Linked DNA regions of Homo sapiens. The protein of the gene in region 1 interacts with the protein of each later gene in a pairwise test. Each region holds a gene or a part of one and is shown on either strand. Other genes may lie near its edges.

Region 1 (4,283 bases):
TCCTCAAGTATTTAGCCCATTGTAAGGACTCGATGTTAGATTTTTCAGTCTCATAGCTAAAAAATTCAATGTTAAAATTAATAAACACACCTAGCAAAAGCAACTATGTATTGCTTTATGAACTTATTAGCATATTATTCAAAAATTTCTTATAAACAAATATCAAAATATAAAATTCGTAGTGATAGACACTGAAAATGAAAGATGTATGGGTAAACCTGAAAAAAAGAAATAAATTTATCTAAAAGAAATTTACCAAAATTTTGATTGAACAACACTTCAGGATCATCCTTGGTCTTATGCATTTTAATATGGAACTTAAGCCCTGAAATTATAAATTACATCTGGATATAAATTCACATTTATATTTATAGCAGAAAATGCTGCTTCAGGGAAATTTTTATCTACATATGAAAAGAAAGTCAAATGCCAGAAATTGTTAAGTACTATTAAAAGAAATTATTCACTATCACTGACCTTGCTTTGCAAAAGTGAAGTAAGATTTAAAACAGCTTTTTAACATAAAATTGGTAGATGTTTTATTAGAGATACTTTTAAAAGTACTTAGCAGAAATTTTCAGATATTTTTCTACACAAGCTAACATTTAGTTTTATTCTCTCTATTGGTATAATTTGTTCAGTTCCCCAAGTCATTTTGAAATTTTATTATTTCCTGTCCTGTCTCTATAGATGCCCTTACTTTGTTATCCATTTGGTATTCAGCATATAATTTATTGTTTTCTCTTCTGTCCACTATAGTAATAGTACTGCTTTTTAAAAAAAACTCTGCGTGACTTCTGATCCCAACATATGGTTTCTGCAGTTGCTACTCGCATTTAGGCCAGCACATTTGTATACCTACCCCTTGAGGGAAAACAGCACTGAAGAGAGTAGCAACTCACTTCTGAGAGTCATCCTGTATATGCAAACCCTCTGACTACAATGCCTAACACATGGCGCAGCAAAGGGACAGACTGCCAAGAAGCTATTGTGTTCCTGTGCTATCATCATAGCTATTGTCCATTCAGGGTTCATTACAATGAATCAGAAGCACTTTACATTCATTTGATCTCAAAACAATACAACCCAACAACCATTACTATCCTTATTCTACATGTAAAGGAACCGAGGCTGAGAGAGACTCAGGATTTTGTCTAAGGGCTACCTAGAAACTAGAGAAGGGTCAAGATTTTAACCCAAACATGGACTCTGGAACAATACTCTTGACACTAGAATATCACTCATATTCAAAGTCCAAGCTACGCTCTTGAAATAGCGCATCTTATTTCATTCAAACAGGCAGAGAAATGTCAGCAATGTCCATCGCTGTCCAATCTGTGAGTCTGGCACTATGTATTCTTATGTCATATCTCTAACAAGTGCTGTCAGAGTGCAGCATTGTAAACACATCAGTGTTGCCAGAAAAAGAGGCAGATATATCCCTTTTATACTATCATACTTTTTTAAAAAAATGGCTTTTTAATACAACAGAATGAAATACCTGTGAATTTATTTGATTAAAACACATAAACTATCATCAAAGGACGTTCACAGCTCCCTTGTTTGGTACTTCGTTAATGAATTCTGACTCAAATATTCATTTTACAACTTCTACTTCTTTGTCTCACTTGTTAAATATAAAGTATTTGATAAATGCAGAGCTCCTTAGGGAAATTTACGTTGTCCAAACTCAACTAAGTCTTCACCCCTTGGTTCTCTCTGAGGCAAAATAAGGGACTGGGGTAGATCCCATCATATTACCTGCAAGGAGGGATATGCTCGCCTGTATTCACATCACATTTTGGTACCAAAATGGTGCAAGAAAAGAACATGAGGTATTTATAACAGTTGGTTTGAACAAGTGCAGGGAAAAGAGAAGACTCCCAGCTGATGGATGCTTCCTTTTGAGTCCTGTGGCCAAAATAATTTGGATAACTTGTACTGTTGTAGGGCAAATTCATGCAGAGTTCCAATGTAATTGGTTCACATTGACCTAACAAAGAAACATACACACAAATATTTTTAAATTTCACATATAAAAACAACTTCTTTAAGTTTTACAAACTTGAAGTCTATTTTATTCTTTCTTTAGAGTAGCTAAGACTAGAATGCCAGTAGTATATAACATTTTTTATGGATATTGAAAATAAGTAAGTTGATTAGTGAAGTGCCCTGGCAACTAAGATTCATTTCTGTATATGTAGTTGCTAGCACTGTGACAACATCTTGCTTTAGAAAGTCCTTCCTCATTTTTTCCCTTGGCTCAACTTATCTAAAGATGACTCTCTTTCATCATTCCTTTTATTGACTCCAATTCATCTTCTTCTTCTGATTTACTTATTACTACTAAAATAGGATAGCCCCATCATCTTCACTGTCACTAAACTAATTAATGAATTTGATCAAATAGGCAAGTAGATAACTTCTGTCTATATGTTTTATTGTTGATTAATGTGTTTAAATATAAGGCTACAAGATTTCAGGGCAAGAGGAGGCTCAGATCTGTTGAATACTTCTCACTAATAAGACAAAATCCAAACCCCTTAGCTTGAAGTCTGAGGCTATTTTATACTTCAACCCTAGGCTAACTTTTCAGCTTCATTGCCTGTGATTATCCAATCAACAGTATCTCTGCTGTAATAAATTCTATTCCCTTATGACACCAGATATTTTAAGAATTGTATGACTTTATGCACCCTGTTTGCTCCTCTCTTACCTCCTCTTTTATAACATGCTCATAATTATCTCCCCAAAGGTGGTCATGGTTCTAGCTGCCAGGGCCATACGGCACCTGCTGCCTGGATTAACCCTTTCCCATCTTCCCCAACAAGCTAACTCCTCTGTGGTCTGGAAGACTCAGCACAAATACCTCTTCCAGGAAACCTTCCTGGCCAACCACTCTTCCCATTACTACTTCCAGAATGAGTCTTTTGTGAGTGCAATAGCGTCTTAGGCACATACCCACCATATGTTCATTGCATTCTGCCATATTCTTTATTTACTTACTTGCCTCCCCTACACAATCCTGAGATTTTTGTGAAATGAGACTTTATCTCTTGATCTTGAAGTCTACACCTAGCACAGTGCCAGAATGAAGGGAGGAAAATGTATCAGGGACTATCCTAGGCAATGTAAATGTAAGAGTAATGAGAAATATTGTCTCTGCCACTGAGGAACTCCACAATCTCGATAGGAAAAAGGATGCACGCGCTGGTAGCTGTAGTAGAATGTGAACAGGGTAGGATAGAGTTTGCATGAACTGAACATTTGTGTATCTCCATTCATACGCTGAAACTCTAACCTGCAATGTGATAGTATTTGGAGGTGGGGCCTTTGGGAGGTGATGAGGTTTCAATGAGGTCTAGATGAGGGTGGCATTTATATGGGATTAAAGTCCTTATAAGAAGGAGAAGAGACTAAAGCTCTCGCTCTCTCAGCCATGTGAGGAAACGCAAGAGGGCAACTGTCTGCAAACCAGGAAGCAGCCTGTTACCAGAGACCAAGTCTGCCAGCATCCTGATCCTGCACTTCCAGCCTTCAGAACTGTGAGAAATAAATGTTTGTCATTTAAGCCACCCAATCCATGGCATTTTATTGTAGCAGCTTGAACATACTAAGACAGACATATTGAACAAAATGCTAGAGTCCAAAGGGAAAAGGTAGTGCAAGAGTGAACTGGGAAGCCCTCTGATATGGTCTGGCTGTGTCCCACCCAAATCTCATCTTGAATTGTAGCTCCCATAATCCCCACTTGTTGTGGGAGGGAGCCAGTGGGAGATCACTGATAATGGGGCAGTTTTCCCCATACTGTTCTCATGGTAGTGAATAAGTCTCACAAAATCTGATGATTTTATAAGGGGTTTCACCTTTCACTTGGCTCTCATTCTTCTCTTGTCTGCCACCATGTGAGACGTGCCTTTTACCTTCCACCATGATTGTGAGGCCTCCCCAGTCATGTGGAACTGTAAGTCCATTAAACCTCTTTCTTTTGTAAATTGCCCAGTCTCAGGTATGTCTTTATCAGCAGCGTGAAAACAGACTAACACTCCTTCCAATGATAAATGTGGTTTGGGCAGCTTTGGGGGAATACAGCAGAGAGGCTCCCAGCTCCCTCTCTCTGTTTGCAGTAGATATGCCACATTCCCTGTGTGGAGAGGCAGGCAAGCAAGTGTCCTGGTAAAATTCGCCCAGGCAGACCAAAGACTCCATGCCTTATTGAGAGTGATTATTCAAATTAAATTTAATTATTTGACTAAGAAGTGGTATCCATGCAAATAGATTTG
Region 2 (2,314 bases), on another chromosome or scaffold:
TGACCTCTTTGGGCTCAAGCAATCCTTCCACCTCAGCCTCCTATGTAGCTGGGACCTGAGGCATGTGCCACTACACCCAGCTAATTTTTTGATTTTTTTTGTGGAGACAGGGTTTTGCCATGTTGCCCCAGGCTGGTCTCTAACTCCTGGGCTCAAGTGATCCTCCCACCTCAGCTGCTTAAAGTGCTGATATTACAGGCCTGAGCCATCATGCCCATCACCAATTATCACATTTTTAGAAATTTTGCATCCTAGTTACTAAACCAGTGGTAGATTGAAATTGACCATGAGGGAGCATGAGCATTTACATTGAGCTGGCAAATGCTGTATGTCAGGATTCCTCCTCCAGAGTCTGCTATTAAACATGTACCAGCCACCATTATATATATGCTAGATACACTGCAGTTATTAAGAATTATATATATGTACACGTATATATACTATTGATACAGTGTAATTGTTAAACATTTAAAAAAATGAAATACAACTTTCAGGGCACATTTCAGCCAAATTCATATTTATTCCAGTCTCTAACACTCTGTTGTTATGTCTGCTGTAAGATGATCAGGAGTTAGTATGAAGTATTCTTCTCTACGCACCAAAGAAAACAAACAAAGCAAACTTCAAGTCAGTGAATTAGTTACCACAGTTAAAATGCATTTGATTTTGTCCTTTTCCTTTTTCACAAGAACGACAGCTGAATACTCTTTCATGTGATGCCTGATATTTTTCTTTTTCTTTTTCTCTCTTTTTTGAGACAGGGTCTTTAAGATGGGGTCTCGCTCTGTTGCCCAGGTTGGAGTGCAGTGGTGCAATCTTGGCTCATTGCAACCTCAGCCTCCTGTTTTCAAGTGATTCTTCTGACTCAGCCTCCCAGGTAGCTGGGATTACAGGCATGTGCCACCGTGCCCGGCTAATTTTTGTATTTTTAGTAGAGATGGGGGTTTCACCATGTTGGCCAGGATGGTCTCGAACTCCTGACCTGAAGTGATCCACCCGCCTCGGCCTCCCAAAGTGCTGGGATTACCGGTGTGAGCCACTGTGCCAGGCTCTGATGTTGATATTTTTCTGTTACAGTCCTTAGCCCAGGCATCCTGTAGCACTCTGTGTCCCAGACTTTTTGATGCAGAAACAAGACTGAAGGAAGATTGTCCAATATAGGAAAGATTCAACTTTTCCTCTATGTGTTTGTCCGCTGGTATTCCTATGAGGCATTTGAGTTACAGGTAGCAGCACATCAGCAAATGACTCCGCTCCCTCTCTCAGCACACATAGCCTAATTGTTACAGAACCCCGAAGGGACACCTGAATGTCCTTTCTTTCAAGGCAATATGTATGACACGCTTTCAAATCTCCTCCTGCCTACTCTGCTTACCTAAAGGGCAAGGGGAGAAAATCCAGCACTGACATAGAGTCTGTAGGTTGAATAAGGCAGCCAAGATTAGAGAGATGTAAGTGAAGAAACCCACTTTATCTGGCTTTGGAGAGAGCTAGTGACTTAAGGCAGGATGTTCATCTGTATCATGTTGACTGGGACAGTCCTGGTTGTTCCCAGTGCAGCTCCATTATCATCCATCTGGCAGTGGGGAGTCTCTGCTGCCCATGTGGTGCTGGCATATGCAGTTCTGCTCATGCTCCTAACGTGAATGCATAAAACACCCCTGCAGTGCCACAGCACTGCTATGAGTTCATGGAAGGCGTAGGTGAGGATACAAGGCAAGAGTGCTCTGGCACCAACACTTGGAGGGGCCACCTGAGCATAAGTTTTCTTAGAGGCTCAGAATTCAAATTGCTAATAGGCTCTTGGAGCAAAATTGCAAAGGACAGATAGGCTTGTTGGTGGCTTCTGTTTTCTTCGCTAACAATCCAGGTTAGTTCTGATTTCCTTCCTGGTCACTTAAAACACCTTAGTAAGTGTGTTAATTGACTTTTAGAGTTGCAAAGGGCTTTTTATTCCATTCAACCCCTGTTCAATTTACAGGTGAGGAAACTGAAATAAGGTACTTAAGTGACTTGCCTAAAGTCACGCAGCTGGCGAGAGGTAGGAGCAGGCTTTCTGACACACTCATCTGGCATTCTTGAGGCTATCCCTACAAATCCTCTTGACCTCTGGTAGAAATTCCACCTCCACCAAATATCTTTCTAAATACATTCATAGCTGGGTGGCTGGATATGGACTCTGAAGCAGAAGATGCTTCATGAAATATTTTTGGTTTATCTAATAACTTTGGTCCAAATACGTATACAGAACTATATACTGAGGTAGCATTACTGAATTTGCCATACGAAACATCTTCACTTTCATCCATCAGGT

What was found.
Region 2: the proteins of CORIN (region 1) and GPX8 interact in binary tests that used the Homo sapiens proteins (3 or more experiments, as listed by UniProt).

The regions. Positions count from the first base shown.
Region 1 is NC_000004.12:47,663,271-47,667,553, forward strand, and holds part of CORIN (atrial natriuretic peptide-converting enzyme), read right to left. Parts: intron 1,994-4,283; coding exon 1,762-1,993; intron 1-1,761. UniProt on the Homo sapiens protein: Serine-type endopeptidase involved in atrial natriuretic peptide (NPPA) and brain natriuretic peptide (NPPB) processing.
Region 2 is NC_000005.10:55,165,484-55,167,797, reverse strand, and holds the end of GPX8 (probable glutathione peroxidase 8), read right to left. Parts: 3' UTR 501-2,314; downstream 1-500.